2 linked regions of the Homo sapiens genome follow. The protein of the gene in region 2 purifies or fractionates together with the protein of the main gene of each other region. This does not show direct contact. Each region holds a gene or a part of one and is shown on either strand. Other genes may lie near its edges.

The links. The genes of interacting proteins can lie anywhere in the genome.
Region 1: the proteins of TES (region 2) and PC purify together in Homo sapiens (affinity purification with mass spectrometry, with the first as the bait; one large-scale study listed by BioGRID). This does not show direct contact.

What each region holds. Positions count from the first base shown.
Region 1 is NC_000011.10:66,849,927-66,854,207, reverse strand, and holds part of PC (pyruvate carboxylase, mitochondrial precursor), read left to right. Parts: intron 1-824; coding exon 825-969; intron 970-1,371; coding exon 1,372-1,461; intron 1,462-1,547; coding exon 1,548-1,769; intron 1,770-2,261; coding exon 2,262-2,418; intron 2,419-2,927; coding exon 2,928-3,168; intron 3,169-3,284; coding exon 3,285-3,534; intron 3,535-3,743; coding exon 3,744-3,988; intron 3,989-4,091; coding exon 4,092-4,271; intron 4,272-4,281. UniProt on the Homo sapiens protein: Pyruvate carboxylase catalyzes a 2-step reaction, involving the ATP-dependent carboxylation of the covalently attached biotin in the first step and the transfer of the carboxyl group to pyruvate in the second.
Region 2 is NC_000007.14:116,251,854-116,256,134, reverse strand, and holds part of TES (testin), read right to left. Parts: coding exon 4,160-4,281; intron 3,818-4,159; coding exon 3,659-3,817; intron 1,018-3,658; exon of another isoform or gene 1-1,017. UniProt on the Homo sapiens protein: Scaffold protein that may play a role in cell adhesion, cell spreading and in the reorganization of the actin cytoskeleton. Plays a role in the regulation of cell proliferation. May act as a tumor suppressor. Inhibits tumor cell growth.

The DNA of each region.
Region 1 (4,281 bases), on a different chromosome or scaffold from region 2:
TGGAGGGTGTGGCCTGGAGATGGAGAAGAGGTCACAAGGTCCCAAAATGGCCGTGGTCGAATCCTCTGGCTTGACCAGTGGCATGGGAGGAGTGGGTGATGAGGGTGATGGGATGCAGGTTTTGGTAACTGGGGGGACAGTGGGGCACCCACTGGGCACAGGAGGACTGGGTGCATAGGCAGGAAGCTGGCCGTGGACTTGCTGAACTTATGCGAGGGGTGAACAAGGAAAGGCCCGGGAGGCAGTTGCACCTCTGGGTCTTGCCCTGGAGGCAGAGCCTGTCACTGGCGCCACAGCCCCGGGACGGGGCCTCCTGGGGAGCATGTGGTGTGTGAGGAGCTGGGGAGGAAGAGGACAGGAGAGCAAGATGGCTTGGAAGCCCAGGGAACGAGCAGCAAGGCGGGAGCATGCCCGCTGGACTCAGCTGGGAGGAGTGACTTAGAGTGCCAGAGTGTGGTCTGTTGCGGTCAAGGCCCTCTTTCGAGAAGCGTGGACGAGGGGCAAGGGTGACTGCTGTGGGCCACGCTGCTGGAGAAAAAGGCTGAGCCCTGTTCTAGGCTGCGGGGAGGCAGGAAGGGTGGCCTTCAGCACATGCTTTGGTGTAAACAAGTATGGAGGGAGCAGGCCCAGCCCGTGACAGCTTAGGGGGCTCTGCTGGAGTGAGGAGAGGGCTGAGGGACGGGGAAGTGCCCCTCTGCAGGGAGGCCCAGAAGCTGTGCTGGCCCAGGGCAGCATCTTCAGCCTTTTCTCTTTCAGCCTTTTCTCCTCTGCCTTCCCTGTCTGTGCTGCATGGTGACCCCCTCCCACCCGCCTCTGTCCTGCAGACCAACATCGCCTTCCTGCAGAATGTGCTCAACAACCAGCAGTTCCTGGCAGGCACTGTGGACACCCAGTTCATCGACGAGAACCCAGAGCTGTTCCAGCTGCGGCCTGCACAGAACCGGGCCCAAAAGCTGTTGCACTACCTCGGTCTGGCCCGAGACTGCCCTGCCCTGCCCTCCCCTCCCCTCCGCTCTCCAATCTCTTGCTCCTACCTCCTTGCCACTCCCCATGACCAAAGAACTCCTTAGTGCCCCCTGCCCCTCACCCCTGCCCTCATTCTGGCCCTGCGTCCTCTTGTCCTGCACCCTGCCATTCACTGCTCTCCTTGCTTCTGATCTGAGAGACCCCACCTTTCCATCCACGTGGTCCTCAAGACGTCCCCACTGCCTGTACCCAGGAGGCCCTGGCTTTGGAGAGGACAGGGGCCAGCTGGAAGCCCGGGGATCCTGGAGGGATGTGTCCCTGTCCCTGAGCCCAGCCACTCTCACTGCTGCCCTCGACTCAGCCTCTGCCCAGCCCACCCTGACCCACTGCCCGCTTTCTCCCCAGGCCATGTCATGGTAAACGGTCCAACCACCCCGATTCCCGTCAAGGCCAGCCCCAGCCCCACGGACCCCGTTGTCCCTGCAGTGCCCATAGGTAGGTGAGATCCATTCTGTCAACTCATGGGGGAGACAGGAGGTTGCCACCTGCAGGATGGGCACCAATGCCCCTGTCTACCCTAGGCCCGCCCCCGGCTGGTTTCAGAGACATCCTGCTGCGAGAGGGGCCTGAGGGCTTTGCTCGAGCTGTGCGGAACCACCCGGGGCTGCTGCTGATGGACACGACCTTCAGGGACGCCCACCAGTCACTGCTGGCCACTCGTGTGCGCACCCACGATCTCAAAAAGATCGCCCCCTATGTTGCCCACAACTTCAGCAAGCTCTTCAGCATGGAGAACTGGGGAGGTAGGCTGGCATGCTGCGCAGCGCCTGGTAGGAATGGGCGCCCGCTCTGTGGCCAGTCCCACAGGCTTAGGCCACTGGGGACAAGCTAGAGACGCTGACACGAAGAACACCAAAGAGGAAGGACCGAAGAAGGCACAGCGCCCTCTCCGGCCAGGCCTGGTGCCGGCACGAGGTTGCAGAGCTGAGACCAGGTGCATCCTGGGAGGTCCAGGGTCAGGAGGAGACACCTGCCTGTTAATTATAGCACAGAGAGGTAGAGGAGAAGATGGGATTATAAAGGGGGCATAGAAGGGACACAAATGAGCCTGGTCTCCCCCTTAGAGATCAGACAAGGGAAAAATCTGTGGGGGTTGGAGCAGGGAACACAGGTATGGCGAAGATGAGCAGGACCTGGTATTGGGGCCAGAGGCTTGTGCTGCAGAGCTAGCTCCAAGGCCTGGTGGAGTTCCCCAGGCATGCAGAGCTGATCTGGGCCTCTCGGTTCCTGTGCAGGAGCCACGTTTGACGTCGCCATGCGCTTCCTGTATGAGTGCCCCTGGCGGCGGCTGCAGGAGCTCCGGGAGCTCATCCCCAACATCCCTTTCCAGATGCTGCTGCGGGGGGCCAATGCTGTGGGCTACACCAACTACCCAGACAACGTGGTCTTCAAGTGAGCCTGGGGTGGGGTGGGCAGACGCTACCTGGTGTGGCCCAGAGGGTACCGAGCCATGTCGTGATGGCCTCTGTTCTCCACGGTCAGCCTGACACCAAGTCTCTCTGTGGCCACACGCAGCAGGGGCTGCTGTTTGGAAATATCGAGAAGTGTAAAATTGGAGTTGCAGAACCAGACAGGCTTCTAAATCACTCCCTCACTCCTGGGGCAGTGGAAGGTCTGAGACTTGCCTGGGTCACTCGGTGCAGGGCTGGGATTGGAACCCAGGCCTCAAGACTCCTTGCTCAGTACCCTCTTCCACAGCCTGCCACTGGCCTAGCTGATCCTCCAGGGCCTGGTCCACACTTGTGTGGCCACCCCCCGCCTGTGGATGCCACACCCCCTGCCAGGCGAGACCCTCAGATCTCATTCCCCAGGGGCCATAGAGTGGGTCAGGAAGGAGCCAGGGAAGACTGTTCAGAGGGAGGTGGGGTGGGGCTCAGCCCTGGGCTCTCTCACCCTTGCAGGTTCTGTGAAGTGGCCAAAGAGAATGGCATGGATGTCTTCCGTGTGTTTGACTCCCTCAACTACTTGCCCAACATGCTGCTGGGCATGGAGGCGGCAGGAAGTGCCGGAGGCGTGGTGGAGGCTGCCATCTCATACACGGGCGACGTGGCCGACCCCAGCCGCACCAAGTACTCACTGCAGTACTACATGGGCTTGGCCGAAGAGCTGGTGCGAGCTGGCACCCACATCCTGTGCATCAAGGTGCCTGGGCCACTTGTCCGTCCCTCCCTCTCTGCCCCGGCCATGTCCCCGCCACCCACAGGCACACATCCTGCCCTCTCTACCATCTCTCTCTCTCTCTCTCCCACTTCCCCCAGGACATGGCCGGGCTGCTGAAGCCCACGGCCTGCACCATGCTGGTCAGCTCCCTCCGGGACCGCTTCCCCGACCTCCCACTGCACATCCACACCCACGACACGTCAGGGGCAGGCGTGGCAGCCATGCTGGCCTGTGCCCAGGCTGGAGCTGATGTGGTGGATGTGGCAGCTGATTCCATGTCTGGGATGACTTCACAGCCCAGCATGGGGGCCCTGGTGGCCTGTACCAGAGGGACTCCCCTGGACACAGGTAGGAAGAACAGCAGCCCGTGGCCACACCCCTCTCAAAGCCGCAGCCACCACCAGTCCCAGTAGTGTTGGACCTGCCTAGGATCCAGATGCCCTGCTCTGGCCTTGCCGCCTTCTGTCACCTGAGTCAGACATGGGACCTGAGCTAGCCCTGGGTCCTGGAAGAGTCACACATTTCTAAGGCCTCCTCTGACTCTGGCCTCCCTGCAGAGGTGCCCATGGAGCGCGTGTTTGACTACAGTGAGTACTGGGAGGGGGCTCGGGGACTGTACGCGGCCTTCGACTGCACGGCCACCATGAAGTCTGGCAACTCGGACGTGTATGAAAATGAGATCCCAGGGGGCCAGTACACCAACCTGCACTTCCAGGCCCACAGCATGGGGCTTGGCTCCAAGTTCAAGGAGGTCAAGAAGGCCTATGTGGAGGCCAACCAGATGCTGGGCGATCTCATCAAGGTGAGCCCGGCCCGGTGCTCCTTACCTGACCCAGCCCTGCATGCACCTGCCACTGGCCTCCTTGAGGTGCCTGGCACCCTAACCTCCAGGGCCTTCTCCTCAGGTGACGCCCTCCTCCAAGATCGTGGGGGACCTGGCCCAGTTTATGGTGCAGAATGGATTGAGCCGGGCAGAGGCCGAAGCTCAGGCGGAAGAGCTGTCCTTTCCCCGCTCCGTGGTGGAGTTCCTGCAGGGCTACATCGGTGTCCCCCATGGGGGGTTCCCCGAACCCTTTCGCTCTAAGGTAGGGAAGG
Region 2 (4,281 bases):
GCTCTGTAATCTATAAGTTAGGTCAACCCAGTCTTCCCTGAGATACAATGAAAATTCTTTGATCAACACACTATTCCTGAATACTATAAAAATGAACGTTTCAATTACAAGCACATTTCTAATGTGCAGCTGCACCATGCAAGCAACTGCTTTTTGTATATATTTTTATAGCTTTATTATGCATTTAGAATGTCTTATTTTCTGCATTTCATATTAATCTTTCCATTTTAAAATTTATGATCAACACATAATTGTACATATTTATGGGTGTACTATGTGATGTTTCAATACATGTATACATAGTGTAGTGATCAAATCAGGGTAATTAGGATATCCCTCTCCTTAAACATTTATGATTTCCTTGTGATAAGAACAGTCTTTCAATATTTCTTGTTTATGTATTTTGAATGTGTTCTTGTAAAATACACCGTGTGTTTTATTCCCTTGCTTTCAGACCATGATCTATCTTCTTTTTCTCAGACCTGTGATTTTTTAAAATTACCCAAAACACACATTTTCAGTTGCAATTTACAAAAAAGAGATAACTAATGTTCAATTACACATGAAATTAAGAAAATTAAGCAAAAAGATAATTAGTACACATAAATGGTATAGAGAATTAAAGTCTGGGGTTTCATAAAATTTCATTTTACTAATAATTTGATTACCATTCATTCAAAATCTGACATGTAATCACAGGTCGAATCTACTGTTCCCTAATTCCTCAAAAATCTAAAATTGGCCCAGGCTGCGCCAAGGGCCTGGGGACTGCAGAACCCTTCAGGGAGATGATGTGCTTCACCACTTCCTGCCTGCCATTTGATCTTCCCATGTTCCTAAACCTTTAATATTTCAAAGAATTCTTATTTCCTTCAATCCCTCTTCTTATTTGTACACAGGATGTAAAAGAGCTAATGACACCTGTTGTAATGAGCTCTCTGCAGGAGTGTCCTATGAATCTGACGGATGTGAATTCTGGGGGTAACTATGGAGTTCTAGTGACTACACAGAGACAAAGTAGGTGCATCTGCCATGTTTTTTCCTTCCAGGTACTTTTTTTTTTTTTTCTCAGAAATGTTGTTTGGAGTTGAGCACTTGATTTCAGGTCTAAAAATAATTTGTATTTTCTCTCTTTAAGATGAAAAGATCTAAGCAGATCAATGCCCTGAACTAGATAACCTTCTCCAAATTTTATATAATGTAGCATGCTGTGTGGGTAGCTCTCTTTGCTGTTAGCTGGAATCTGTTCTGGCAATGGATATGTATGCTCATTTTAATATTAGGCAAAGGCCAATGGTATATCCCACTGAGAAAGTAAACATAAAAGAAATGATGCTACACACACACACACACACACACACACACACACACACACATATATATATATTTTTTTTGAGACGGAGTGTCGCACTATCAATCACCTGGGCTTGGGGTGCAGTGGCAGGATCTCGGCTCATTGCAACCTCCACCTCCCAGGTTCAAGCAATTCTCCTGCCTCAGCCTCCCAAGTAGCTGGAATTACAGGCACCTGCCACCACGCCCAGCTAATTTTTTTGTATTTTTAATAGAGACGGGGTTTCACCATGTTGGCCAGGCTGGTCTCGAACTCCTGACCTCATGATTCGCCCACCTTGGCCTCCCAAAGTGCTGGGATTACAGGCGTGAGCCACCATGCCTGGCCAAAATGATGCTATGCTATAAAACTAAATAATTTGAAAATTCTTTTATTTAAACAAATCATATCTGTGGTTATACCCTGCCATTGATTAGAAACAATGTAATACAGAGAAGCTTGTAACAGCTAAAAAAAGAAAAAAAAGCAGTTTCATCTGTTTCAATAAATTTTTATTGAGCACCTATGTTGTCCTAGTGTTGGGAACAGAATAGAAAAGGCAGATAAAAAAATCCCTGCCCTGATGGAGTTACATTCTAGTCCTTGAGACTAAAGGTCAGACAGCAGCAAAAAAAAAGGTATACATTATAATACCTTTAGTCTGTAGAAAAACTGTTGCAACAATATTCATTGAAGCAGTTTTTAGCTAAATAATGTATCAGGTTACATGGTGATTTGACGTCTTGTTCCCTAGGTAAAGGAATGACCATGGTAACCCCAAAGCGAGAAATATTAAGAACACGAGTCAGTCACTCAAACATTTTCTAAGTGCTGACACTGAAGATATAGAAAGCAAGATATAAGGCAAGCTCTACCCTCCAGCTGCTTACAGTCTAGTGAAGGAGACAGATGAATGATATTCACACACACACACACCCCCACACACCCACCCACACACACACCATTGGGAACATGGAGAGTCTGGAGGAAATGGTGGAGTTTGGGCATAGTGAATCAGGAAAGGTGTTCCGAAAAAAAGTTAAACCTAAACTGAATCTAAAGGAATAAATGTGTAGGTACAGTCAGGTAAAACAGGGAAAAGTACGGTGTATTAGAAAAACTATTAGGAGTAAGCAAAAGACAACAGTGTGTAAACTAGAAAATGATGGTGAACGTGTGGAAATGTATGATTTGCGTTGGATAACTAGTAGAAGGGACAGGAGAGGCAAGAAGGGGCCAGATCTATCAAAAGTTTAATAATTTGCATTTTAGGAAGATAATTTTCCATCATTATGGTGGGTAGCTTTTGAGCAAGATGAATGAAAGTGGAGGAACGAAATTTGAGGCCACTGCAATAGTCAAAATAACAACAAAAAAAAAGGTCTAAAGTAGAATGGTTGTAATTATAAGAATGTGAAATATATTGGTGAGGCACAGTTGATAGAGAATGAATAACTGTATCTGGGGCAATGGGTGAACGCTGAAAATTGGCATTGACATAAAAACTTGTTACCTTATCTTCACAGTACCACACTCTTATAACTATATATAACTATATAAACCATATGTAATTTCATTCCTTAGCCAGGAGTCCCTTTTACTTGATAGCTCAGGGGACCATTAACACATATGTGTTTTGCTGCATATAAAGAAGTAAATGTCTATTTGGATACTCCTGGATTATACACTTTACCATCTATGGTCAACTTTTTACCCTTTATCTACATTACCATCACTTGGCCATTATACAACAGCAGCTCTGTGTAAGCAGAGTAAATGCAAGAAAAAATATACTTTCACATTGGAATGTTTGGCCCACACAAAAATCTAAATACGCAGGCCAAGTTTTGTTATGCTAAATCAATTCAATGAGGGTTTAAGAAATAGGTATCTTACAATCTCCAGGTAGCAAAAACAAAATTCCAGTGGGTGGTCCAATAACACAAACAGAAAGCATCATATTCAAATAGAGCTAAAGAATATCAATAGCCCCTAGACACCTTTATTGAAATGGAATCTGATTGCTAACCATGAAAATAAAACAATCTCATTCCCATTAAGAATTTTTTTAAGTGAGGATTTTATTATTAAGCAGTACCTATAATTGATATTGTAAATTTCACAAGTAGAAATCTTGAGGTGGCTCATAGTCAATGCATGTATTGTTTTTGAATTGCCTTGATTTTAACACCCTGTGGTAGGAATAATTTGCTTTCTACTTAGGAGGACTGCTTTCTGTTTCCCATTTGTAAGAGGCTTTAAGAAAAGCATAAACTCAAGTCCTAAAGCAGGCTGAGGCAACCATATCCTTAGAACACTTCTCACCACAGCGTGATTCTTCACATAGCAGGGCTTGCACACGGGCTTGTCATTGACCATCACGTATATCTCCCCAGCTAGAATGCTATCACAGTCAAAGCAGCAGAAGTGTTTCAGGTGCCAATTCTGGTTTTCTGCCTGGGTATACTCATTGCTGAATATCAGCTAGGAAGAAGATAAAAATAAAGATGGATTTTTATATAATAAGAGATTTATATCTGTAACAACATACTTTCTCAGGGTCTAAAGTTTGAAAATGATAACCTAAAGCTTGAACTTATGCTATCACTTAGTTTAGTCTAAATCAATCTTTTATATTTCTAGTCTTTCATTTGTCAACCCAATTAACACAGACAGAATGAATGATATCAGAAGTTTATTTTTTAAAACTTCTTTGGATGTAAACAGAGCAACTGCTGTTTGGTCAAGTCTTGTTGCCTTCTAGGTAAAGGGACCATATGAGGGTCTAAGAGGGCACCAGCATGCCGGTGGTCCCATAGAACATACCTCGTCACAGCCAGCACATCGGGGTTTCTCGCTGTCACAGTAATGTCTGCCACAGTATAGCTTCTCATTCTTCCAAAAATAAATCATGTCAACCAGGAGTTCATGGCAGGTGCTGCAGACAA